4 linked regions of the Homo sapiens genome follow. The protein of the gene in region 1 purifies or fractionates together with the protein of each later gene. This does not show direct contact. Each region holds a gene or a part of one and is shown on either strand. Other genes may lie near its edges.

Region 1 (7,027 bases):
ATATTTCGTAAACAGAACTGGAGAAAAATTTTAAAAAATCTGAGCACTAGAGATTAAATTTTAGGGATCAACATAATACTAAGAGATAAAATGTGAGAATGGACAGGTTTTCTACTCTGTTCTTGATAATGTGGAAAAAGTACAATGAGTAGCTTGTTTTGTTGCCATGTTTCTTAGAAAATAGGACCAAACACCATTGAGAAAAATTCAGCATCTGTTACAGGAAAATTAGATACTGGTCCTTAATAGCTGATAGTAGCAACTGTATCTTTATATGCTTTTTAATTTTTATTTTTATGGATATATAATAGTTGTAAATATTTACAGAGTACATGTGATATTTTGATTCAAGCACACAATGAGTAATGATCAAATCAGGGTAAATGGGATATCCATCACCTCGAACATTTATCATTTCCTTCTATTAGGAAACTTCTAATTCTATTCCTCTAGTTATTTTGAAATATACAATAAATTATTGTTAACTATAGTTGCCCTATTGTGCTACTAAACAGTAAATCTTATTCCTTCTCACTGTATTTTTGTACCCATTAACCAGCCTGTCGTTATCCACCCCTCCCCTCTCCCTATCCTAGCCTCTGGTAACCAACATTCTACTTCTATCTTCATGCGATCAACTGTATATGTTAAGCCCTGCTTCTACCCATGGGCTTCATCCAAAAATTCCTCTCACACTAGTGTGCCTTCCTAAACCATCTTTAAAACCATCATTGATTCAATAATTCATCAACTCTGGGAGCTGAAGAAAAATTCTTATACTATGAACTTAAAAAAAGATGATCTGGTAACAGCTTCTGAAAATGTGTGTGTGAGAAATAAGCTAGGAATAGTGAAATACAATTAGCATAGACAGGTTGGTAATTAGGGTCTTCATCATTAATGACAAAGAGTATGAGGAATAATACAAAGTTCAAAGAAAAAAAGAATGAGTAAGAAAACAAATTTTGCCAGTAGTTAAGTCACCCAGCAAAATGGCCCAAAGCACTAATAAGAAAACCAAGTCTTAACTAAATGATTTTATTCACTTCCTACGTCTCTGTCCTTACTCTAATCCTTATGAACCTGAATTAATCAAGTATATAATATTTTTAGATTATATTAATTAAAGGCTATGCTCTATCTCAAAAAAGCAAGACAGTACGAGAGATGTATTTTGTTTCCTTAATAAAGAAAATATCAACAAAACCAACCATATAAATTAAGCATAACAAATATTTAAAATAAAAATCAATAAGCAGTGTTATTTTATGTAAAGACTTAGCTATCACACACAAATACTTTTACACTCTCCACAGAACTATGATACATTACCGTGTTCTCTCTAGTTTGGTATAGAAGCAACCTTGAATAATTTTAACAGCTTTTAATATAGCTAGATATTCTTTGTGTGCTCTCCAACATCTATACCAGGCTTGAATCTTGCAGGCAGCTTTCACTTTACATAAATATTTCTTGGCTCTATATCTCCTCCACATAGCCTATTAAATACATAAATATAACAAGTATGCAATGAGTTGTCTCTTTTTTTTTGTAAATAAGACAAATCAGTATAAAGACAGTTAAAATAAGGTTAGTGCAGACAAAAATAAATTGCATAGTCATATCATGACTCTTTTAGACTTTGACATGTAATGAGTCTTCTGAGAACAGTGGTGCTTACTATAGTGAACACGTATTATGTGCTTTATCACACATACCTTATGGCTGGCTGCCAGCCCAGCCTAACAAAACCCTAACCAGTATTTATAAATTGTAAGACACACATGTCTGAAAAGCCCCACATTATGTAAATTATCCTCATCACCTCAATCCATTTGGAAGAAAAGAAAATGAACACATTGACCTACTGCAGGTTCTGGGGAGAAAGAGGAATTCTTCCCAATCCATATTCACTTTGGGTTCTGTGTTCAGCCTGCAGGAGAATCCTGAGAGCTCCTGTGATAGGACTGTCAGACTTTCTGATTTTGACAACCTTCTGGAAGACTAAAGGTTTACATGACAGCTACAACTTATTGAACTAAGCACTAAGAAGATTAGTCCTTAATAATCACATGGGTAGATAATACTATTATCTCTAATTTAGAGATGAGGAAATCAAGGCCTAGAGAAATTGAGTAACTTGTTGATGTCACACAGGTTAATAAGTGGCAGAGTTGTCTTACTTAATATTTATAAATATCTTATAAAATGGTTAAGATCTCTGTTTTATAAAAAAGGAAAAAAATCCAAAATTGAAATTAAGAAGGACTTGTTAGCATATAGCTGTTAAGTGACAGAGTCAAGATTTGAACCCAAGTCTATTTGACTCCAACATCCCTACAGGAAGAGGAATTAAAAGAAATTAAAGACTGTGTAAGCAAAAACTCAGTTGTATGTAAGAAAACCCAATTCCCCTTGGGAAGAGAAAGGGCTGGAGTCCTTTAAAATTAACTGTGTTTTTCTCTCTGTGGCTAGTGAGCCTTATCTCTCCCTTTCCCAGGCATTGTGAAGACTGTTTCTCTAGCTGTGCAGCTGCAAGGACACTAGACAGATAATCTCAAGTTGTAAAACATGTTGTTCCTTAAAAAGTAAGAAATAATGTAATGCATCTCTTACTTGAATAACTGTCTTTGTTTCTCTCTTCTGTAATACGCTTCCCCCTGCACAGATCTCCCCATGCCCCACGAAATGCTTAAAAGGTAGCTTGACTCTTTGTTCAGGGCTCAGTCCTCTTTGGATGTTAATCCGACTGGGTCGGTGCACATAAATAATTAAATAATTCCTCCTCAAATCCCTCGGTCTCTCTGATTCCTTAATTATCCCGCAGCACAACAAATACTATAGGCACAACGTATATTTAGATTAGGTTCTAAATTCAGTTGATAATGCAATAATTATATATGGCCAAAATTACTCTGAGATGACCTTAACTCATTCAGACTATATTGTATACGGTTTTTATGTAAATCTGCATACATTATTTATGTATATCCCCAATACCTGCCACCTCAGTCTTAATCAGTGGTAGAAGAATGGTCTCAGAACTGTTTGTTTCAATTGGCCATTTAACTGTAACAGTAAAAGACTGGTTAATGGTAACACTGCATCATAAAACCTTCAGGAGGAAAGGAGAATGTTTTGTGGACCATTTTGGTGTTTTTGTTTTTGTTTTGCTTGTGGCAGTTATAAGTTACTAGTTTTTAAAATCAGTACTTTTTAATGAAAACAAATTGACCGAAAATCTGTCACAGAATTTTGAGACCCATTAAAACAAAGTTTTAATGAGAAAATTATATATATGTATAGATATACGTGTGTGTATATATATATTTACAAATATATATATATATACACACACACACATCACACCTGAAGAACATCAAAATTTACAGACATTGACAAGAGAAGCCAACATAGCGTTAAGAGGGAAAGAAGACAGCTAAGAGATTATGGTATCAAGAAACCAAGGGTTGAGAGAAGAAACAAAGTGTGCTTAAATCCCAAATGCTACAGAGAAGTTGATATATATATATATATAAAACATACATATTTACATATATATGTAAGTATTTAGTAATGTATACTATATCCCAGTGGCTCCCAAACTTCGCTGCTCATTAGAGTCACCTGGGAGCTTTGAAACAAATCCCACGCTTGTGTTGCTTCCCATACCAATTAGAATATCTAAAGGTAGGAGTATGTTTTAAAATTCCAGGTGACTCCAATATGCAGTAAAGTTTTAGACCACTGGCATAGGCTAAAAATTATATGTGTAAAATACAATTTTATTATGTAATTATGTAAGAGAAAAAAATTTTTATAAGATTGTTATTTTGGCTATTTAATCATTTTAAGTGAATAAAACCATAACTAATACATCCAATGAACACCTTTCAATTGTGAACTTCTCAGTAGTGTTAGGAATTTGATACCATAATCTCTTACCTTTCTTCTTTCCCTCTTAACACCTTGGTTTCTTGATACCATTAATCTCTTACCTTTCTTCTTTCCCTCTTAACACCTTGTTGGCTTCTCTTGTCAATGTCTGTGAATTTTGATGTTCTTCAGGGCTCAAGTCCCAGGCCCTCTTTGTTCACTCATTTTATGTATTGTTCCTTGGTGATCTCATTATTCCCAGAACTTTAATTATTAGCATATGCCCATAATGTACAAATCAAATTCTAATACTCACACTACTCTCCTGAACTCCAGACAAACATAGTCAACTGCCTTACTAGATATTTCAAGGGGGTTACCTGCTAGGTACTTCAGATCTTATATACTCCAAACTGAATTCATCATCAATCTCAAAACCTGCTCTTCCCTCTTTATTCCCTATGTCAGGGTGTGAGGGAGTAACTCTGCTGAGTTACTTAAGCCATCAACATGGCTTGCCTCCTTGTTCATGCTCTATATAATGCCAACTTACAATCCCATTGTCACAAACCTACACTGAACTATAACTCTTTCTCACCTGGCTTACTGCCTATTTTCATTTGGTCTACCTGATTCTAGTCTTGCTCCTTTTCCAGTCCATCTTCCACATTCCTGCCAGAGTAATTTTTTTTTTTTTTTTAATAAAAATGACTGTGGTCTTCTCCTGCTTAAACTCCTCTAGAATTTGTTTTGTCTGGAGCATAAAGACTAAATTTTTTCTGTCTTAAAAATCTATCCACAATCTTACTCCCTCTATTGCCAACCTGGTCCCATATCACTTTTTATTGTTTCTAGTTTTTTGATTTTTCCACGTTATCTCTTGCAATTGGAATATTCTTCTATACCTTTTACTGGGCTATTTCTAATTCATACTTCAGTGTAACATTTCAACTTAAATGTTACTCACTCTGGGAAGTCTCTGACCATGGAGACTAGCTTGATTTCCCATTCTGTGTTTCCTGAAACATACACTTCTCATGTTGTATTATAATTATACTTCCTTGTTCAATTAAGTTCCTTGAGGACAGCAACTAAGTATATCTTACTCATTGTCTATTTATAACACCCACTACAGCATTTGGCACATTTCTAGCACTTGACATTTCTTGAATTAAAACATTATTTCTAAATTTAACAGTAATCCAGTAAGATATGAACATATCACATCTGGGTTAAAGCCTGGGTTATTGCAGGTAAAAAGAAATAGCTGAAGTACTTAGATTCAGTTCCTGGATCTGCCTCTCTCTATGCAACATTGGCCAAATTACTTAAACTTTATCACTTCCTTCATATTTTAAAAGAGATAATACTGTACATTCCTCACACATTTGGCAAATAGACAAAACAAAATAATACAAAATTGATTTGGAAGCCAAAGTACTAAACACTCAGAATAAAGTATGTCTACTAGCCTAAGCAGCAAACAGCTCTGGTTAATAGATTATTAGAGGAACAAAGTTACTCTATTTTGCCTATATTATGCCAAATAATACTTTATCTTAGCTTATATTTTCCACTTAAAGAAATAACTTTGCCAAATACAGGACTCCTATTTTCTCAAAATTCTTCTAAGAGTGCTACAATTAACCCATACTGAAATGCACCACACATAGGGTGACCATGGCCAGAACAATCCCCGTTCTGTGCTGTCTTGGCTGACTTACTAGTGCCCTTTCCCTCTTTCAAAAATGTTCCACTTTGGAAGATAAATGGTCACCTCAACTAAGTACTATTCTTTATGACCTGCTTAAGCTCATTTTATACATTCTAACAAATATTGGTCAAAAGAAAGACTCACAGTTTTATATTTAAATTAAATATAGAAATACCTGAATTTTTATGGTGCTATTTTTAATTTCCTGAAACTTCCGTTTCTGTATAAATCCTTTACTTCTAGCTTGAATAATGATAACACTGCTTCTGATCTGTAAATAGACTTGTCTTTGATGTTTTGCAGACAGAAATGCTCTGTAGTGATTTTGTAAAACCACTGCTGCTTTTCTATATAGTAAAAACTGTTTTCTGGTTTGCCACGTCCTAAAATAATGCTGTAAAGTGATAGCAGCTCTTTTCTGCTGAACAAATCTTCTCCGATACACAGCCATCTGAAGGAAGAACTGAATCCGTAGGGCAGCACATTTCTGTGTTTCCAGTTTTCTTGTGACCATTCTACAAAAAGCTTTTTGAATTGTTACTGCAGCCCTACTTTGAGAATGATACTCTGCTTCCTGTGAACAAGCAAGGCCAGAAGCTTTATACCACTCTTGAATCATAACACCTTCACTTTGAACAGCTTCATACTGAGTTTTACTTCTGTAACAGCAGAGTGCAGATTGGTTAACAATGGCTGCCATCTTTTCCTCTGATACATTTTTCAATTTTTGTCTAACTTTCATGCCTCTAAAAGCAGCCTGAATAGTTCGTACAGATTTCTGAACTGCTAAAAAGTTTTTTCTTTCTGTTTTTACTCTAACATACAACCTATAATAATTCTGTATAACCACAATTGCAGTTTTCTTTGTTTCATAATCAACTTTGGCCCTGTGCATTCGATAGAATGACTGAATTAGTGTGGCAGCCCGGTGCATATTTTGAATATCCTTTCGTACTTTAAAGCCTCTGTAATAAGACTGTATACAAATAACTGCTTGGGTACGCACTGCAGTTAGTTTTCTGTATCTTCTTTGAATAGAAACTACTGTTGCTCTAAGGTGGAGATAATGCTTCCTTATTTTAAAGGCTTTACAATGCTTCTGAATAATAATGGCAGCCTGGTGCTGTTCCTGAATCTGTTTTTTTATGTTCATGTCCTGAAAACCTGCCTGAACACAAGTCTCTTTCTTAAGTTCATTGTGTTGAAATACTTTCTGTTTCTTTTTATTTGCTCTATATTTTTCTTGTATGATTTTTGTAGCCCACTGAAGCTTTTGGTAGAAACAATACTGCCTATACATTCTGTAGGTGCTTTGTATTACGATAGAAGCTTTGTGTTTTTCCCTTAAAAGTTGTCTTGCTTTCATTCCTTTATATGCAGCCTGAATAACCACAGCAGAATGCCATTGTCTGATATAATTTTCTCTTTGTAATTTTG
Region 2 (7,027 bases), on another chromosome or scaffold:
TTCAGTTACATATGTACATAGTCTGTCTCTGAACATTTTGGTAATATGTTTTCTGAAAAGTGCTTATCAAGTTTCCTGTAATTCTCCTTGGACCCATGACTGTCTCACATATATTTTTGCAGAGGAATGCTTCTTTAAATTATACTATGTGTTTGTGCTAATTGTAAATGTGTTTATTTTAAATATTTGCTTAGAAATAAAATTTTTCCCTTTATACTGCTATAGAAAACATTTGAAGCAATTCACCCTTCTAAAATTTGAAATCTAAATAGAACATTTACTTCTAAAAGTTTAGCAGTTGAAAGATTGTCAATTGTAATAGATTTTTCTTCTTTGTTTTGCAAGGTGCCAGATAGATTGGAAAAAAGGAAAGAATGTCACTTTGAAAACTATTAAGAAGAAGCAGAAACACAAGGGACGTGGGACAGTTCGTACTGTGACTAAAACAGTTTCCAATGACTCTTTCTTTAACTTTTTTGCCCCTCCTGAAGGTAAATAATGTTTTAGCTTGAGTATTAACGGTTGTTTTATAAAAAGCATTGCTTAGCTTCTTATTCATTGTAATTTCTTTTCTCAATTTTGCAGTTCCTGAGAGTGGAGATCTGGTAAGTTGAATTGTTATATATTTATTGAATTGTTAAGTATATTTGAAATTAAAGCACTGAATTTCAAAAATGGAGAGTGGGATGGTTGTTACATTGAGTTCTGAGGCCTACAATGCATGGGGCAGACTTTTTGGATATGAAAAATAATTCCATTCAAAATTATATCAGTGCTTCTGCTGAGAAACACTGAGATAAAAAGCTTAAGGTTTTCTTTTCTTTTGAAACTTCACATATTGCTGTGAGGGATTTAACTTTTCAAAACTGTTGTCTTCCTTAGTAAAACCAGAATATATTAAGTCACTTATACTGTTACATTCCTAACTACATTATGGTTCAAATTCATTCCTGAATTTGTTACTCCAATGTAAATATGGTTTCATATTGTGACTAAGTATGTTCACATATATGGCATATGGCAAAGAACATGAAATGTTCCTGCCATATAGACTGAACTGAGGAACAACCTTAAAGAAAGTCTATACACACAAGGTAGGGCAGGTATGTTTTGAATTTGGTTTTCTTTTGGGCATGTTTTTGAATTTAAATTAACTGAGATAGTTTAAATAGTTTGTACATATATGGAATTAGAAATTAACCTAAACTGAATACTTTTGAATTGGAATACTCTTGGCTAAGACTTAGAACAAATTTGTAAAAGGCAAAAGTAAGTATTTCTGGCTTGGCTTATAGGACAAAAAAAGAGAACATAAAGCAGTGTGAATTTCAGGTGAGAAAAACTACTTTAAGTATTAAGATAGAGCATCACACTATTTTCATATCAGTGGATGGGTTGGAGTTTGTGTTCAAGTTTGGGGTTTTTTTTTGTTTGTTTGTTTGTTTGTTACTAAATATTGATGATGACAAAACAGTCTAGTTAAGGATAGAAAACCTCCACCTGTGGTTTGAATTCCTCCCCACCCCCTTTTGGATTTTTCTATTTATTAGATTATGTTGTTGACTCAAACATTCATGGAATTCACAGAGGGTGTGCTCATTGTTTAGTATCATAGAACTTGTATCATTGTTTAGTATCATAGAAGTGGGATTATTTTATTTTATTATTATTATTTTTTTTTTGAGATGAAGTATTGCTCTGTCATCCAGGCTGGAGTGCAGTGGTGCGATCTCCACTCACCACAACCTCTGCCTCCCGGGTTCAAGCAATTCTCCTGCCTCAGCCTCCCGAGTAGCTGGGATTACAGGCACGTGCCATTGAACTCGCTAATTTTTGTATTTTTAGTAGAGACGGGGTTTCACCATGTTGGCCAGGCTGGTCTTGAACTCCTGACCTCAGGTAATCTGCCTGCCTTGGCCTCCCAAAGTCCTGGGATTACAGGCATGAGCCAGGCCAAAGTGGGATTATTTTAATTGTGAATAATGTCAGACCCACTTTTGCCCTGTGCTTTTCTATTAAATAGAAATCCTAAGCCAGGTACAGCTTCAGGCACCTGTAGTCCCAGCTGCTCTGGTGGCGGAGGTGGAAGGATCACTTGAGGCCAGCCTGGGCAACATAGCGAGACCCTGTCTCTAAAAAAGAAAAGTGCTAGGGGCACCTGATTTAGTTAGTATATTGTCTTTCTGAACTAGGACTGTCTCATTTGGGATTAGTAGACTTAAAACTGTACAGCTGTTTGGGTACTGTCTTTTAGGAACTATAAAGTGATCCTCTGTGGTTGTTTATTATGTCCTTCTATTTGCTATGTACTTAACAATATTAACAATAACTATATATTAACAATAACCCAAGGGTTTTTTTTTTTATTTTTCTATTTGGTGTTTTCAATAATATTTTAAAAGGAAAATTGCGGACATGTAACAGTTGCTTTTATGTATTTATGTTTAAACCAGCAAAAACTAAGCAGTTCTAATTTTTATTCTTCACAATTTATCTTAGTATGCATACTGGCCTGCTAGCTTATTTTCTTTTTGTTAAAAACTTGGAAAAGTTATTAAGGAAATTTAAAAATGACAAATCATTTGTTAACATGGTGTGAGAAAAATCATGGAAAGTAAAAAGTAAAGTTGAGCATTTCTTCCCTTCATCATATAATTTAAACTGAAGAGTCTGTCTTTTTTTTTTTTTTTTTTCGGTTGCCCAGGCTAGAGTACACTGGTGTGATCACAGCTCATTTCAGCCTCAAGCTGCTGGGCTCCAGCAATCTTCCCACCTCAGCCTCTCAAGTAGCTGAGACTACAGGCGTGTGCCACCCTGCCCAGTTAATTGTTTATTTTTTGTACAAACGCAGGGGGCGTCTCACTATGTTGCTTAGGTTGCTCTTGAACTTCTGGGCTCAAGTGATCCTCCTACTTTGGCCTCCTGAAGTGTTGGGACTACAGTTGTGAGCCATCACACCCAGCCTCTAAGAGTCTTACATGTGCCAAATTAAGTAACACAGTTATTCCTAAATTTTCTGCTTTTGTTTTCCTTTAAAAATAGGATGATGATGCTGAAGCTATCCTTGCTGCAGACTTCGAAATTGGTCACTTTTTACGTGAGCGTATAATCCCAAGATCAGTGTTATATTTTACTGGAGAAGCTATTGAAGATGATGATGATGATGTAAGCGAATTTGAATCCTGCAAAGAAATAATTGGTTGAGGGTATAGTGGTCAGAATTGGTAATAGATTAGTTTAGTTTTTAAGAAGCAGGACATAATATAATTCAAAATTAGGCTAATTACTGATGTTCTGTATATAGCTTTTCTGGGTTTTAAGTATGTCTCCTTAGGATTTTTGGATTCATTTATCTTAGCTTTTAATTTTCTGCTAATAAGATTGTTCTGAGTTTATGAAACTTTTTTATGTTTGGTTAGTGCTATAGATCTATTATGCCCTTGCCTTGACTTCACAGAGCTAGGACTTTCTTTAGTGCACAAGAAAACATTTACTGGGAGGCATAGAATTTCTATTCAAGGTAGTATTGAATGATGGTTAGGTTAAGATTAGGTTGCATATAGATGTTTTGAATATGTTTATTGCTCAACGGCAATTGTTAGAGTAGGCTTTAGGTCCTTTTCGTACAGTGCATTCCACACTTAAGTGTAGGTGAGTAATATTTACAGTAATACTTGTCTGATCATCCACTTTATCCACATGATTGTACTCTGTTCTTTAATTTTATAAATTGGCAGTGAGCAGAGTGATTCTTGCAGCTACTATGTGTTTTAATTTATAATCAGCCCCTTGATAGGAAAGTAGGTTTTCTCTTTTTAGACACTAGTTTATACAGTGATAAATGTTACTGATGCTACTCTGAAATGTGTGTTACATTCACTCAACACTTAACGCTGTTTTTCCTTTTCAGTATGATGAAGAAGGTGAAGAAGCGGATGAGGTAATGTTTACCAAATGAGCAAATAATTCTCTGTGGTTAACACATTGAGAAGCAAATTGAATGACTTATGTATTCCTTTGCTATAATCATTCTGTGATTTGGGATAAAAACATTTTGGAAAACATGATTTTAGAATTCTACAGCCAAACAATGTATGTATAAGGTTTCAATAAATAAATTGCAAAACTCAGCAACATTTTTTTATTTCAAATAATTTTGTTCTGCTGCAGGGTTATCAGCTCTTTGAAGAAGTCAAAAGCTGCAGTAAACTTTTCCAACGTTGGCTGCAGTAACTATTTTCAATAAAAGCTGTCTGGATGTCTCAAGTTGTGTTGGGAAATTTTTCATATTAGAAGCTTTCAAATTAAATTGTATTATCATCAAAGTCTGTAATCATGAAAATCTGTTGATCCGTAGAGTAACTTGTATTAAATTTTCCCTACATTATGAGCCAGTTTACCTACTATGTACATACTTCATGGATGCATTTTGAACTTTAATATAGGAAGGGGAAGAAGAAGGAGATGAGGAAAATGATCCAGACTATGACCCAAAGGTGAGCAAAATTAGTGCTGCTTTCTATTAAATTTAAGATAGCTAAAGTAAGAGTTGGTGTTTTTGAATATCAAGTTTCTCTCCGTTAAAGTCTTTAATAAATAAAGCCTATTGACTGGATAACTTTGTTTTTTCAGTCCCACTGGCATTGTGAACAGTACACATAATTTCAGTGGACGTTTTTCTAAAAAACATTGTTTTTTGTTTGGACTTCGTGCTTTTTATAGTTTCAGGTACAGTGAACCCTAGGATTCTATTTTAATGGGACGATTTGTAACAGTTTTTAAGCATTAGAAAATAAAGGTTTTTAAAAGATCTGGTTGTAGGAGTGTTCGGGAACTGGGGAGCAGTGCAGTTTGTTAGATCCTTCCAACTACTCTTACTCAGTCCCTGAGAGTCCTAGTCTATTATTCCTGAGAATTTGTTATATTAGGATTAGCAAAAACAAAGCTGATTGGTAATATAACTAACATAAATTGCTTGGTAACTTTATTTTTTTAAGATTATGGTTTAGCGTGTGTCACATTTTATGGAGTTAATTCTACAGTGTAAAGTTTGAGCTTGATTTTAGCATTTCAGTGACTTGCTAATAAAATAAATAATTTACCACCATTGTCCTATACCATTTCTTTTGACAACAGTGAGCTACTGTTATAATTAAGGCAGTAATTACTATTGAGAAATTCACTGAAGCAGGTAGAAGAAGATAGATTGACTTGTTGTTTTCCTTTAACAGAAGGATCAAAACCCAGCAGAGTGCAAGCAGCAGTGAAGCAGGATGTATGTGGCCTTGAGGATAACCTGCACTGTAATAGCCTAAACACAACTCTTATTTACTTACAGCCTTATGTTTTTGTATTTTCTTGGTAGACTAGGTAATTTTTTTTTAAAGGACAGGAAACTGATATTTTAAAGACCAATTTGTTCTACCTAGCATTTTAACTAGTTTTTCTGCCAGCTATGTTGAATGCACAAATTCTGTCACGCATGTTCATTCATTGCTACATAATTTGGTTCTTCTGGAATATTTTTATGTAGCTCTTGGAGTACAGCTATGAAAATTAACAACTGTTAAAGGAAATACCTTTTTTTTTTTTTTGTAATTTTTTCCTTGAAGAACCAAAGTATTTTTTCAGCTGGTTGTTGAATAGGGTTAAGTCCGCTTGGATTAGCTGTGCCTTTCATTACTTTGTTACAGAAATGCAGTGACTTATACTAAGACAATTTATTGTTTAAAAAAAAAATTGGCAAGACAACTATATGGTTAAGAATTTCCAGTATGACCACACCCAATAACTGTTATTAGAGTGTTAATGGATTATTGTGTTTTAGGTGACATAGTTAACTGTAAAGTAACCTGACTCAGTATAGTTACTGGTACCACAGTGAGGTGAATAAAACGGGATTTTCAGAAGTTAGCCTGAATTTAACTGTATTTTTAAATTTAACCTCCATTAACTAAGCATCTTTTCTTTGTGGTAGGGTCTACCTTCTGCTTCCCTGGAAAGGATGAATTTACATCATTTGACAAGCCTATTTTCAAGTTATTTGTTGTTTGTTTGCTTGTTTTTGTTTTTGCAGCTAAAATAAAAATTTCAAATACAATTTTAGTTCTTACAAGATAATGTCTTAATTTTGTACCAATTCAGGTAGAAGTAGAGGCCTACCTTGAATTAAGGGTTATACTCAGTTTTTAACACATTGTTGAAGAAAAGGTACCAGCTTTGGAACGAGATGCTATACTAATAAGCAAGTGTAAAAAAAAAAAAAAAAGAGGAAGAAAATCTTAAGTGATTGATGCTGTTTTCTTTTAAAAAAAAAAAAAAAAATTCATTTTCTTTGGGTTAGAGCTAGAGAGAAGGCCCCAAGCTTCTATGGTTTCTTCTAATTCTTATTGCTTAAAGTATGAGTATGTCACTTACCCGTGCTTCTGTTTACTGTGTAATTAAAATGGGTAGTACTGTTTACCTAACTACCTCATGGATGTGTTAAGGCATATTGAGTTAAATCTCATATAATGTTTCTCAATCTTGTTAAAAGCTCAAAATTTTGGGCCTATTTGTAATGCCAGTGTGACACTAAGCATTTTGTTCACACCACGCTTTGATAACTAAACTGGAAAACAAAGGTGTTAAGTACCTCTGTTCTGGATCTGGGCAGTCAGCACTCTTTTTAGATCTTTGTGTGGCTCCTATTTTTATAGAAGTGGAGGGATGCACTATTTCACAAGGTCCAAGATTTGTTTTCAGATATTTTTGATGACTGTATTGTAAATACTACAGGGATAGCACTATAGTATTGTAGTCATGAGACTTAAAGTGGAAATAAGACTATTTTTGACAAAAGATGCCATTAAATTTCAGACTGTAGAGCCACATTTACAATACCTCAGGCTAATTACTGTTAATTTTGGGGTTGAACTTTTTTTTGACAGTGAGGGTGGATTATTGGATTGTCATTAGAGGAAGGTCTAGATTTCCTGCTCTTAATAAAATTACATTGAATTGATTTTTAGAGGTAATGAAAACTTCC
Region 3 (7,027 bases), on another chromosome or scaffold:
CTTTTCCTGCTCTGTTCCTCAGACTTCTCCTCTTCAAGCGTATTCCCCCCACAACAAGGACAGCAGCTTGGACTACATATCTGGCTGATGATGTAATAAAAAGATTAGGCATGGGGGTTTCCTAAGCCACAATTCAGGGCCACTCTGCACCAACAGAGATAAGCACCCAGGTGGAAGCCCCCCTTCCCCGAGCCTCATACATTGTCATCATCTTCTATGGCCTCCCCAGTGAAGTACAGCACAGCCCGCGGGACTATCCGCTCACGGAAAAAGTGTCCAATTTCAAAATCAGAGGCTAATGTGAATTCAGAATCTTCATCCTGAGGAGGAAAAACCTACGTGTTAACTCATTTTAATGGGATAAAAACATTCACTTCACCACCCTCAGCCAAACCTCAGCCCCTCACTTTTGATTTACTTAACTTAAAACACCAAACTCCTGCACTGCTGGGGGACAGCCACTAGACACTCAAAGCCCCTTTAAAACAACTTTAAGTAGCTTTAAAGAGCTACTGAAGCAAAATGGCAGAGAAAGTGGGAAGTGAGGGCCCTACAGCTCCACAACTTGTCCAAAGGTCTCACCCAGAGTAGGCGGTATCAGTCTCACATATGGGAAACAGGCAGTATTAAAGCACTGCACATTTGCTACTGAAATCAACATATGAAACACATACTTTTACTTAGATGTGTAATGATTTCAAATTAATCCCAGAGTTTTAGGAAACAGAAATGGATTTTTTTTTTTTAAGAGACAGGGTCTTATTCTATCACCCAGGTTGGAGGGCAGTGGTGCAATCACAGCTCACTCCAGCCTCAAGCTCCTGGGCCCCAGCGACCCTGGAACTACACAGTGCACCACCATGTCCAGCTAATTTATTATTTTATCTTTTGAGACGGAGTCTTGCTCTGTCGCCCAATGGAATACGGTGGTGCAATCTCAGCTCACTGCAACCTCCTCCTCTCGGGTTCAAGTGATTCTCCTGCTTGAGCCTCCTGAGTAGCTGAGATTACAGGCGCTGCCACCGTGTCCAACTAATTTTTTTTTTTTTTGGTATTTTAAGCAGAAACGGGGTTTCACCATGTTGACCAGACTGGTCTTGAACTCCTGACCTCTGGTGATCCACCCACCTTGGCCTCCCACAGTGCTGGTATTACGGGCGTGAACCACCATGTTCGGCTGGCTAATTTATTTGGTTTTAATTTTTTGTGGAGATGGGGTTGTGCTATGTTGCCCAGGCTGGTCTCAAACTCCTGGACTCGTGCAGTCCTCCCACCTCAGCCTCCCAAAGCATTAAGATCACTGGCATACCCAGTCCACACACAGCCAGGACTGGACTTTTTTTAACAAGTAGACAAGTAGACATTCACTCAGGAGAGACTTCAACAGGAAAATAAGACTATTAACAACAAATCTTACCAGTGATTCTCCATCCCCGGATGCTAGAAAAAGAAAAGACAAAACATATTTAAATTACAGTGACAACTCCCAGAATTTTAAAGCCCACACAGGAGGAAGCTGTGCTGGTAGATAAAATGTAACATTTCTCACCTCGAGGTTTAACAGAAATCCCCAAAGCCTTGCATCTCCTCACAGACATCTTTGCAAGCTCCATCCACCACTTCTGAAGCTGGCCTGAGTGCCTCTATGCCCCCCTCCCTTCTCCTCCTCCATCATGTGCCATGGGCTGGCACTCAAGCTTGAGAAGATCATTTTGAGAGAGTTAATATATTAACAGGAGGAATGGCAAACAGCCCCCAGGCTGTGGCCATTCAGTGCATTTGTGCTTTATGGGGAAACTTAACTCATGTCCCGCAGAACTATACATGATGGTGCAGGAAAGAGAAAGTCCTTAAGCCTTATAAGCTGTGAGTGTTACTAAGGCACTGCAAATCAGCGAGACAGAAACTGCATTTCTGTTTGTTTGGAGAGTGCTGGAATGCCCACCAGGGGCCCCTGTAGAGTGGCGCAATTCCTCAGCGAAAGCTGATGCTCAGACGAGCTAAGCCCACCAAGACAGATAGGGACTTCTAACCACACTCAATGAAGCTGTGCAACGTTCAACTGGTAGAAGATCCAACCCCCTGATTTTAGAAACATTTACTACAAGACCCTGAGCTTCATCAGGAGTTGAATGTTTACTCTGCTTAGTCTCATACCTGCCTTTTCAATCTTCACTGGGCTCTCCTCTCTGAGTCTCCCTTCCCATTAAGCGACCACAACCCTGGCAGCACTTGCTGTTTGCTGCTGAGACATGAATGTTGGGTGCGTAAACACCACCCATGAGTGAGGCAGAGTTCCCAAGCCTCGGTGTGCCAGCATCACCCAGGGGTTTTAGACATGGGTTAGGAGCATGGCTGGGTGTCTAAATGCTGGAGCAGCATGCTCCCCAGGGCACTCTGGCCCAAGTCATGAATAGTACAAGGACTCTGAACACTCATACTTCTGGACTGGCTTTGCAGTTTTAAGGACAAAGGAGCTGGACTCACTAGCTAATGCCTCCTTCACTTCACACCACAGGAGTCCATTTTGTCTGTTCCTTCACTACCCCATTACCTATTCCGCAGCCATCCTCAATTTTTTTCAAAGCACTTACCATTTGGTATTATGTGTTTGATTACTTTAAAAGTGGCTTTACTGATGGGATTTACATACCATTAAAAGGCATACACTCTAAATGTACAACTTTATGACTTTCAGTACGTTAATTTTAGAGTTGTGCAACCATCATACCCTAAAAGTTTTAGAATCTAAAAAAAAAAACACTTAAAAATTCCCTTGAGTCCATTATCAACTCCATTTTTATCCTAAAAATTATTTTTAAATCAGTTTTAAGAGAACTTCCTACACAAAGTGATTCCAGAAATTAAAGCCTCCCTTCTTCACGCTGAATTCACAGACAATCTCCAGTATGCCCAACCCAAGTGTCTAAAAGGAATCTTCCAAAAAAAGGAAATGTAATATCTAAATTTATGACTGCTCTCATTCCCCAAACCGTATGTATTTGCATCTTCTAGGTTCAAAGTCTAATTGCAGAAAATAGGCACCACAATTAAAATAATGGACTGAACTCTGAAGGGCAGCTTGATAAATAAGGGTGCTAAGCTCAGAGACAAAATCAAAAAATCAATCACTCAGACTGGAGAAGAGATCCGCCCTGTGGCCCCACATACAAACAAACACTCACTGATTATCTGCAGCAGGGGCTGGCATCTCTTCACTTCAAATTATGTTTTAGTTCATGGAAACTAAAGAGAATATGGATATTTTAACACTGACAAGTTGCTTGACCTTCACATTTTCTCGCGATTAGGAAATTATATGAAAAATCCCAAGAAATTTACTCTTAAAATCAATTGGTCAACCTTTACTAGCTCAAAGGTCTCATCTTTATTTTACCACTTAGGAAAATTTAAAAAATAAATAAATAAACAAAAAGAAGCAGCTTCCAAGCTGTGATTCTGCCGATGTTTTTCAAAAATGAAAGTCCCAACTACTTGTGTTTCTTACAATATATAAATTCCAAAAAATTCTATCAAATTATGCATAAAAAATTACAAGAAAAGGGGGACTAAGCAGATGATCCAAAAGCAGCACAACTAGAACCAGCGTACAGCAGTAACGGGTACCTGCAGAGCAAACCCAGCAGCTCTCCGAGGCTGGGAGTGGTCCCCGGGGGGTGCGAACCAGACACAACAGCGGGGCAGAAATGCCAGCTGGTGGAGAAGGGTGCTCCAGGTGTCCAAGTGAGGAAGCAGCCCAGGTGCAAATACTCGATTCAGTTTTCTTAAAACAGAACTGCAAGTTTTTGCCTGGGCTACAGCCAAGCAGAGTAAAGCTCTTCCCTTTCCTGCAGAAGATGACAATCCTACTCTTACTGTCCTAGCTACCTCTGCCCCCCGCGATAAACTTGCCAGCGCACCAACAGAACAGCCTGGGACACAGCAATGTGCCCCTACTGACCACACTTGCCTGAAAAAAGAGGACTAAAGTCTCTGGGTGTTAGGAATCTATCAGGTGACCAAAATTATTTTATATAAGAACATAATGAATATTAACAACCAACAGACTTGCCTTTCAATGGATTGAAGAAGTTGAAAAAGGACTCATTGGGTACTTGTTTCGTAATTGTTCTAACAGTGCCTCGACCCTTATGCTTCTGCTTTTTCTTGATGGTTTTGACAGTAACATTCTTTCCTTTCTTCCAGTCAATAGTACACCTACCAGGACAAGACAGCTGTCAGGAACACACAATCCATGAGAAAAATCCATTACAAATGCATGCAGGAAGCAAACCACAGCTCTATGCCAAACCTGGAAAACGAAATAAAACCAATCTGCAAACCAAATACAATGGCCCATGAAGTTCATCTGGAGGTTGGCAAAAAGAGAAACAGCCTGGTCCTCTTTCAACTTGGGTGTGACCACTGGAACTTCAGACTTCTGGAACAATGGTATTATTTTCCCAAGACATTTCATCAGGACTCTGAAATGTATATTCTGTGGCAAAGCCCCGTCAAGTCTGCATGATGCACAAGAACTTGTCCGCGGTTTCCCAAGGAAGGAGGAGTTGCTGCTGTTCAAAGCAGCCAACTGAGCACGACAAGCTGAAAAAAGGAAAGAGGTGGCCACCGGGAATACTGATGGCCAGTGCAGACCACTCCAGCCCCAGGGATGCTGGCGAGGGCTGAGCACAGCACGCTCTCTCTAACACACAATCACCACAGACCCAGGCAACACCTGGCAGATCTCAATACTGCCCGCTTAAGAACATGCTTGGTAAGGCCAGGCCTTTTTCTCACATGATGTCCTGGCCCTGGAAAATCATCTTTCTAAATTACTCTAGCAGGATTTTAATAAAGTCCTGAATTAACAATTACTATTTACTTCTGGTAAATAAACGTAATTGTTTCAAGTCAAGACTAAAACCATTTCTCAGTCAACCCAACCTGGAGAAATTAATTCTAAACCAAATTCTCTCTTTAGTGATTTATAAAGACTGAAATCAGTGAGTCAAACAACAGCTATGCTGCCCCCACCTATTTCCAAAGCAATCAGCTGATCAATATAGCCCTGGACTCAGACTCATTCATTCAATAAGTATTTATTTGCTGAGGGTAATCCATGGATTCAATTTTAAGAACTTCAATTCACGATGTCTAGAGAATCCACTACTTTCATTAAAATGAAGAAACAGGGCACTATCCCAAAGGCTTGCATGTGCAACCACGTGACTCATTTCCCAGGTTCAGCCGCCATCTCCAAGTTCTGCACTATGAGCATTCCCAAACTGAAAGACTATTGAAATATACATCTACCAGGCTTTTAGGCTTTTAAGCAGACTCAAGACTGTACTTTATTCCTTACTTCTATCTTACCCATCAAGTTACAAAATTATCTTTTGATTTTGTTTCAGAAAAACAAGGTAGAATGACATTTTCTTACCCGTCACAGTCCACAATCTCAGGACCTTCAAAGGAAAAGGGATCAGCCTTATCTGGTTCTGATTTCATCTTGTAGGTTTTTGTCAGGACTGAGTTGGTAAAGTAGTCGTTGGGTTCAAAGTGGAACTCTAACACAAAAGACTAAAAGTAGAAATTCAGAGTAAGCACCAGTTAAAATAGAAAAATAACGAGGACAGATTGCTTGGAGTACACAACACTTACTAGAAGCTATTTTGGGAAAGCTCAACAGATAGGGCCATGAACAAGAAAAACTTCTCCACCGCAAAAAAGACTAGCGTGAGGTTAAAAAAACCAACGATGGACTGGCGGGAAATATCTGTTCAGTTCATGAGTAAGGGGCATGTTCCCCCTCCAATGCCTCCTCACCAATAGGCGTCAAGCTCTCCTAAGAAATCCTAGCTTCTCTTAGCTGCTCCCAGCCCTTGCTTCCTGGAAGGAGGGAAGGTGACTAGGGGAAAGTAAGGGGACCAGCAGTCCATCCTCCTCCTGTCCTTTTCCGCTCAGCCTAAGCCCCAGCCCCCACCCTGCTGGGGGAAGCCAGGGTCTCTACTCTGTGCTGTGCAGTGAAAGCAGTGACCCACAGCTTTTCTCCCGGGAGGTGGGTGGGAGAAAAGGACAAATCTCTACAAGGACAGAAAGCTCATCCCTCACTTACAAAGCACGCTACAGACCTGGAAGAGACGTGAGCACACCGGGAAAAAGGATGCAAACATGAACGCAGGCATAGAACAACCAACAGCAGCAACAAGGCATTCATGCTCACGAGTAACAAAACACATGAACACCAAAATGAGATGCCTTTCTTTGGGGCAAAATGTACAAAAATATGTAGACCCGGCCAGGATTTTGGGGTACTGAGCACACTCATGTACTGTCGACAGATTTTATGAAGGACAATTTGGCAATATCAAAAAAAATTAAATTAAAAGGCATATTCCCTGACTCAGTAATTCTATTTTGAGGAATTTGTTCTATTTGAGAAAAATACCTGGATGGATGCATCGATATGTGCAAAGACATTGACCTCATCCCTATTTATAGAAGAAAAACATGGAAGATGCGCTTGGTTGAGTAATTTATAGACAGTTTACAAGACCAGTTCTACGCTCAGACAGCCTGGATTCAAATCCCATCTCTGCCTACACTGCTAGGCAACTCGCGGAAGCTACTCAATGTCTCCGTGCTTTAGTTTCCTCATCTCTACACTGGAAATAACTCTCTCCCTCTCTAGGAGCTGCCTTGGTGGTTAATCTGTATCACTTAGAGCCGCGTTTATAGGCAAGGCTGGCTAAATGTCAGCTGTTTCCATTTTCATTGTAATGGTAAAACCATCAACGGGGGGGAAATTAAGAGGACTAAAAAAAATATACAGCAAAAAAAGTTTATACATTCAAACAAACCACTTGCACAAAGGAGAAGTGAAAAAACAACTTTCAAAGAAAGGTGGAGGAGGAGGCGGGGCATGAGGGCTTAGGAAGTCAGGATCAGGGAGACAGTCTAGTCGGTTTCTAGAAGGGATGACAGCAGGATCTGGCTAGGAGCTCTCCACTGGCCTTGGCAAGAG
Region 4 (7,027 bases), on another chromosome or scaffold:
CAGAAATCAGAGAAGACTTTGAACAGTGAAAGATAAAAATGAATTGGTAGGTTGTGGCCAAAAAATTTAAAGAGTATGAATTTTTTGTGAAGGGTTATACATGATCAGATTTATGCTATAGGAAAATGAGTTCTTGAAGCACTGTGAAGAATGTAATGAAGAATGTAATTCAAGGAATGATGACTATAAAACATGAATGAAAAACTATTAGTACAACAGGTAGTAGCAACAGGCCTCAAAAACCTAGGCCCCTATTCTACTATACAGCCAAGCTTCCCTGCTGCTTTCTCTGCCACCCAAAATAAGCTCAACTTTAAAAAATAGAAAAAGAAAAACGCACACTCTCACATCAACGAATTTCCCAATATGGCCACCCTTTTAACTTACAATCTTATCCCTGCCCCCTTACTAGCATTCCACTCACTAACACTGTAATCAGAAATTGCTTTCCCCTCTGACTGCGTGGAAAATTAATAATAATTTTAAAAATTAAAAGGCTGGGGGCGATGGTTCACGCCTGCAATCCCAGCACTTTGGGAGGCCGAGGAGGGCGGATCACGAAGTCAAGAGATGGAGACCATCCTGGCCAACATGGTGGAACCCATCTCTAAAAATACAAAAATTAGCTGGGCGTGGTGGCGCACGCTTGTAGTCCCAGCTACTTGGGAGGCTGAGGCAGGATAATCACTTGAACCTGGGAGGCAGAAGTTGCAGTGAGCCGAGATAGCACCACTGCACTACAGCTGGGAGACAGAGAGAGACTGTCTCAAAAAAATAAAAAAATTAAAAGAAAAAAATTAGAAATTACTTTTCCAAGGTTACTGATACTTTAATGCATTTTCCCAGAAAGTCTTCAGTTTGTTTAACCTCTCTCATTTAGGAGTATCAACACCCCTTTCTTTTTTCTAAAAATTTTTTACTCATTTTCAAAAGTAATTCATGCTCTTTGGTAGAGAATTTATTAAATCTATGTAAGAAAAAGGAAATTAGGCCTGGTGTGGTGGCTCACGCCTGTAATCCCAACACTTTGGGAGGCCGAGGAGGGTGGATCACCTGAGGTCAGGACTTCGAGACCAGCCTGGCCAACGTGATGAAACTCCTTCTCTACTAAAAATATAAAAAAATTAGCCGGACGTGGTGGTGGTTGCCTTGTTATCCCAGCTACTAGGGAGGCTGAGGCAGGAGAACTGCTTGAACCCAGGAGACGGAGGTTGCAGTGAGCTGTCACTGTGCCACTGCACTCCAGCCTGGGCAACAGTGAGACTCCGTCTCAAGAAAAAAAGAAAAAGAAAAAGGAAACTAACCACTAACCACAAGCAACCTTCTTAAAATTATCTTTCTTGGCTTCTCTCTTACTTTTATGCCCAAAATCTCCAGTCTGCTTTTTCAGATGTTTATCAAAGTACCCAAAATAGGCATGGTTGAAAGTTTAGCCCTCTAGTCCATCCCATACCTTTGGATCATACTACTGTAATCACCTGCCTGCAGAAGAATATCACTTTTCCATTGCTGCTTTCTCTCCTAAACTTCAGCTCCACATTCCAATTGCCTGCTAGACTTTTTCTACTTGATGTTTACCAGCTCCTCAAACTAGACACTCTGTATGTAACTCATGTCTTCAAAATCAGTTTTCCCTCTGGACCCACATTTTCCAATGTAATCACTAATGTCAGTATCTTTTAAAACATACTCTTCAAACCCGTAACTTTTTTTTTTTTTTTTTTTGAGACAGAGTCTTGCTGTCGCCCAGGCTAGAGTGCAGTGGAGCAATCTTGGCTCACTTCAGCCACTGCCTCCCAGGTTCAAGCGGTTCTCATACCTCAGCCTCCTGAGTAGCTGGGATTACAGGCACGCAACACCATGCCCGGCTAATTTTTGTATTTTTAGTAGAGACAGGGTTTTGCCATGTTGACCAGGCTGGTCTTAAACGCCTGACCTCAGATGATCCACCCACCTTGGCCTCCCAAAGTGCTGGGATAACAGGCCTGAGCCACCGCACCCGGCCAAAACTGTAACTTTGTATTATTTCTCTCCATTGAAATATAACCAAAGAGACTTTCAATTAGCTACTATACTTCAGACCATTTTTAAGGAACACAGGAGGTAGAAGAATCCCGTGCTATCAGATTTTTACATTAAATACAACCAGGTAATTTCAAGAGCCAAGGAACTTCTAACCTTTCTTGTTACTAAAGCATTTGACAAGCCGGGCACAGTGGCTCACACCTGTAATCCCAGCACTTAGGGAGACCAAGGTGGGCGGATCTCGGGAGTTCGAGACCAGCCTACCAACATGGAGAAACCCCGTCTCTACTAAAAATACAAAATTAGCCGGACGTGGTAATGCATACCTGTAATCCCAGCTACTCAAGAGGCTGAGGCAGGAGAATTGCCCGAATCCGGGAGGCGGAGGTTGTGGCGAGCCGAGATTGTGCCATTGCACTCCAGTCTGGGCAACAAGAGCGAAACTCCGTCTCAAAAAAAAAAAAAAAAAAAAAAAGAATTTGACAAAGGCAAATATGACATCTACCTTGGCTACATGAAATATAAGGCATAGTGAGGTTAAGTCATTATAGTCGTAGACTCAGGACAAGGCTAAGGCTCTTCACTGCGTCCCTCTGCCTTTGTTAAAAAAACAGTAATAAGCCAAGTGCAGTGACTCGCACCTGTAATTCTAGCACTTGGGAGTCAAGGCTGGGCAACAAAGACAGACCTCGTCTCTACAAAAAATAAAAAACTTAGGCAGGTGTGGTGGTGCACGCCTGTAGTCCCAGCTAGTTGGGAGGCTAAGGCAGGAGGATAGCTTAATCCCAGGAGAGTCAAGGCTGCCGTGAGCCATGTTCATACTACTGCACTCCAGCCTGGGTAACAGTGTGAAACCCTGTCTCAAAAAATAATAACAATAAAAATAATTTTAAAATATTATTTTTATGCTTTCCAACTAGGAAGTTTTATGTTATTTTATTTTTTAAGATGGAGTCTTGCTGTCGCCCAGGCTGGAGTGCAGTGGTGTGATCTCTGCTCACCGCAAGCTCTGCCTCCCAGGTTCATGCCATTCTGCCTCAGCCTCCTGAGTAGGTGGAACTACAGGCACCCACCACCATGCCCAGCTAATTTTCTGTATTTTTAGTAGAAATGGGGTTTCACCATGTTAGCCAGGATGGTCTCGATCTCCTGACCTCATGATCCACCCACCTCAGCCTCCCAAAGTGCTGGGATTACAGGCGTGAGCCACCATGCCCGGCCAGAACTTTTATTTTATTTTTCTTTTTTTGAGGCAGAGTCTTGCACTGTTGCCCGGGCTGGAATGCAATGACGTGATCTTGGCTCACTGCACCTCCGCCTCCCGGGTTCAAGTGATTCTCCTGCCTCAGTCTCCCAAGTAGCTGGGATTACAGGCACCCACCACCACACCCGGCTAATTTTTCATATTTTCAGTAGAGACGGGGTTTCACTATGTTGATCAGGCTTGTCTCGAACTCCCGACCTTGTGATCCGCCCACCTCGGCCTCCCAAAGTGCTGGATTACAGGCGTGAGCCACCGCATCTGACCTCCAACTAGGAACTTTAAAAAAAAACTTTTTTATTAGAAATCATTTAGCAGCCGGGCGCTGTGATTCATGCCTGTAATCCCAACACTTTGGGAGGCAGAGGCGGGTGGATCACCTGAGGTCAGGAGTTCAAGACCAGCCTGGCCAACAAGGTGAAACCCCATCTCTACCAAAAATACAAAAATTAGCCAGGAGTGGTGGCGGGCGCCTGCAGTCCCAGCTACTCGGGAGGCTGAGGCAGGAGAATTGCTTGAACCCAGAAGGCAGAGGTTGCAGTGAACCAAGACTGCGCCACTGCATTCCAGCCTGGGTGACAGAGCGAGGCTCTGGCTAAAAAAAAAAATTTTTTTTGTATGTTGCCCAGGCTGGTCTCAAACTCCTGGACGAGCGATCCTCTTCCTGCTTTTACCTCCCAAAGTGCTGGGATTACAGGCGTGAGCCACTGCGCCCAAACTCTTTCAGATCTTTAACAAGCTATATCATTGAATAACTTGCTATCTAACAGCCGAAGTATCCAGGGACTTTCCTTCTCCCAAATTCAGAACAGTACTTCAAAATATTCCTGGTGAAGGAATGTTATCTAAACTACAGGCTACTCTGGTCTTCCTAAAATATTTTGCTTAATTTCTAAACATTCCAAATTATCTTACAAATATGCCATTATTTTACACTTTTCCAGACCTAAGATTTTCATTAAATACTTTTAATAAAATGGAATCAAATGAACCATTTATAAGTAAGGTATATCACATACAGCAGTAATAGTTAACCTTTTGTGACAATCCCAAAAGTGATCCAGGGTAGTGTGAGTTAAAAAAAAAAAAACACACACACACACAAAATATCAAGAAACTTACCAAAAGCAAGATCACTTTTTCATATAAAGCAAGTGAGAAAGTAGCACTGCTGCCTGTACATATAAAACCATTAGGCCGGGCACGGTGGCTCAGGCCTGTAATCCCAGCACTTTGGGAGGCCAAGACGGACGGATCACCTGAGGTCAGGAGTTCGAGACCAGCCTGGCCAACATGGCGAAACCCCGTCTCTACTAAAAATATAAAATTAGGCCAGGCGCAGTGGCTCACGCCTGTAATCCCAAGACTTTGGGAGGCTGAGGTGGGCAATCACCTGCAGTGAGGAGTTCAAGACCAGGCTGGCCAACATGGTGAAACCCCGTCTCTACTAAAAACACAAAAATTAGCCGTGTGTGGTGGTGCATTCCTTTAATCCCAGCTACTCGGGAGGCTGAGGCAGAATTGCCTGAACCCGGGAGATGGAGGTTGCAGTGAGCCGGATGGCACCAATGCACTCTAGCCTGGGCAAAAAGAGCGAAACTCCACTCAAAAAAAAAAAAAGGTGTATATACATATATAACCATTATATACCATATTGAGCTTAGGAACTAAGAGTTTAAATGTCTCCTGGGTAAACCCTCTAATTCCACTTACAGCATTTTTCTTGACTGCGAATATAACAGGGGAAAGACTATTGATGCGGAGATCATATCCACCTTAGCCAAAATCAGATCTAATAGTTTCGTCATCCAAAACTTACATGTAGCTTTATTATAGTACTGACCACATGTATTGTATGGGCCAGTGACGTGGTGATTATGGAGCTCTAGAAAGGCAGTGATCATAAATTTCTCTGCATCTAACTACTTAGCTCAGTGCCTAGCACACAGACATTTGCTGTTACATGAACCAGACTGGGAATTATCCTTCGGAATGAGTATTTAATAAAAATCTTCCTGGCATTATATTTAAAAACACCGGCTGGTGTGGTGGCTCATGCCTGTAATCTCAGCACTTTGGGAGGCCAAGGTGAGTGGATCACTTAAGGTCAGGAGTTCGAGACCAGCCTGGGCAATGTGGCGAAACCCCGTCTCTACTAAAAATACAAAAATTGGCCAGATGTGGTGGCACCTGTAGTCTCAGTTACTCAAGAGGCTGAGGACTGAGAATCGCTTGAACCTGGGATTGGAGGCTACAGTGAGCCAAGATCATGCCACCGCACTCTAGCCTGGGCAACCGAGTGAGAACCTGCCACAAAAATACTAATAATAATAATAATAAATTTTAAAAAATAAATAAAAGAGCTAAAGCCTATACTGTTATTTATTAATATTATAACAGGAAGTCAGTCATAAAGCCTATTACTGGGAAATCAAGGAATAACAATAACAAAAAATAACAATTCATGACCTCAAGAAACTTAAAATTATAGTGGGGAGAAGAAAAGTTAAGTAAAATTAGGCCAGGCGTGGTAGCACGTGTCTGCAGTCCCAGCCACCTGGGAGGCTCAGATGGGAGGACGCTGCTTGAGGCCAAGAGTTCTAGGCTGTAGTGTACTATGTAGTGCAGTGGAGCCCACTGCACTCCAGCCTGGGTAACATAGCAAGGCCTTAGCTCTGAAAAAATTAAAAATAAGCCTGGGCAACACGGTGAAACCTTGTCTCTACAAAAAATACAAAAATTAATTGGGCATAGTGGCACATCCCCGTAGTCTCAGCTACCTGGGAGGCTGAAGTGGGAGTGTTGCTTGAGCCCGAGAGGGAGAGGCTGCAGTGAGCCATGATGGTGCCACTGCACTCCAGCCTGGGTGATGGAGCAAGACCCTGTCTCAAAAAATAAATATAAATAAATAGGCTGGGCATGGTGGCTCATTCCTGTAATCCCAGCACTTTGGGAGGCCGAGGTGGGCGGATCACAAGGTCAGGAGTTGGAGACCAGCCTGGCCAACATGGTAAAACCCCATCTCTGCTAAAAATACAGAATTAGCCAGGTGTGGTGGCAAACGCCTGTAATCCCAGCTACTTGGGAGGCTGAGGCAGGAGAATTGCTTGAACCCAGGAGGCAGAAGTTGCGGTGGGCTCATATTGCGCCACTGCACTCCAGCCTGGGCAACAAGAGCAAGACTCCGTCTCAAAAAAAAAAAAATTTATTTATTTATTTATTTTTATTTTTATTTTTTGAGACGCAGTTTCGCTCTTGTTGCTCAGGCTGGAGTGCAATGGTACGATCTCGGCTCACCGCAACCTCCACCTCCCGGGTTCAAGCGATTCTCCTGCCTCAGCCTCCCTAGTAGCTGGGATTACAGGCATGCGCCACCACGCCCAGCTAATTTTGTATTTTTAGTAGAGACGGGGTTTCTCCATGTTGGTCAGGCTGGTCTCGAACTCCCAACCTCAGGTGATCCGCCCGCCTCGGACTCCCAAAGTGCTGGAATTCCAGGCATGAGCCACCATGCCCAGCCAATGTTTTAAATTTAATTAATTAATTAATTTTTTTGAGATGGAGTCTCACTCTGTTGCCCAGGCTGGAGTGCAGTGGCACGATCTCAGCTCACCGCAACCTCCGCCTCCCAGGTTCAAGCGATTCTTCTGCCTCAGCCTCCTGAGTAGCTGGGATTACAAGCATGCGCCACCGCGCCCAGCTAATTTTGTATTCTTAGTAGAGATGGGGTTTCTCCATGTT

Evidence for each region.
Region 2: the proteins of ASPM (region 1) and NAP1L1 purify together in Homo sapiens (affinity purification with mass spectrometry; 2 studies listed by BioGRID and IntAct, with this or other methods). This does not show direct contact.
Region 3: the proteins of ASPM (region 1) and NAP1L4 purify together in Homo sapiens (affinity purification with mass spectrometry; 2 studies listed by BioGRID and IntAct, with this or other methods). This does not show direct contact.
Region 4: the proteins of ASPM (region 1) and IPO7 purify together in Homo sapiens (affinity purification with mass spectrometry; 2 studies listed by BioGRID and IntAct, with this or other methods). This does not show direct contact.

Annotation. Positions count from the first base shown.
Region 1 is NC_000001.11:197,094,666-197,101,692, forward strand, and holds part of ASPM (abnormal spindle-like microcephaly-associated protein), read right to left. Parts: coding exon 5,766-7,027; intron 1,500-5,765; coding exon 1,333-1,499; intron 1-1,332. UniProt on the Homo sapiens protein: Involved in mitotic spindle regulation and coordination of mitotic processes.
Region 2 is NC_000012.12:76,046,669-76,053,695, reverse strand, and holds part of NAP1L1 (nucleosome assembly protein 1-like 1), read left to right. Parts: intron 1-345; coding exon 346-491; intron 492-585; coding exon 586-605; intron 606-3,042; coding exon 3,043-3,165; intron 3,166-3,910; coding exon 3,911-3,940; intron 3,941-4,170; coding exon of another isoform or gene 4,171-4,233; exon of another isoform or gene 4,234-4,445; coding exon 4,446-4,496; exon of another isoform or gene 4,497-5,107; intron 5,108-5,231; coding exon 5,232-5,267; 3' UTR 5,268-7,027. UniProt on the Homo sapiens protein: Histone chaperone that plays a role in the nuclear import of H2A-H2B and nucleosome assembly.
Region 3 is NC_000011.10:2,954,327-2,961,353, forward strand, and holds part of NAP1L4 (nucleosome assembly protein 1-like 4), read right to left. Parts: intron 5,584-7,027; coding exon 5,444-5,583; intron 4,219-5,443; coding exon 4,073-4,218; intron 1,441-4,072; coding exon 1,418-1,440; intron 321-1,417; coding exon 201-320; intron 1-200. UniProt on the Homo sapiens protein: Acts as a histone chaperone in nucleosome assembly.
Region 4 is NC_000011.10:9,387,645-9,394,671, reverse strand, and holds part of IPO7 (importin-7), read right to left. Parts: intron 1-7,027. UniProt on the Homo sapiens protein: Functions in nuclear protein import, either by acting as autonomous nuclear transport receptor or as an adapter-like protein in association with the importin-beta subunit KPNB1.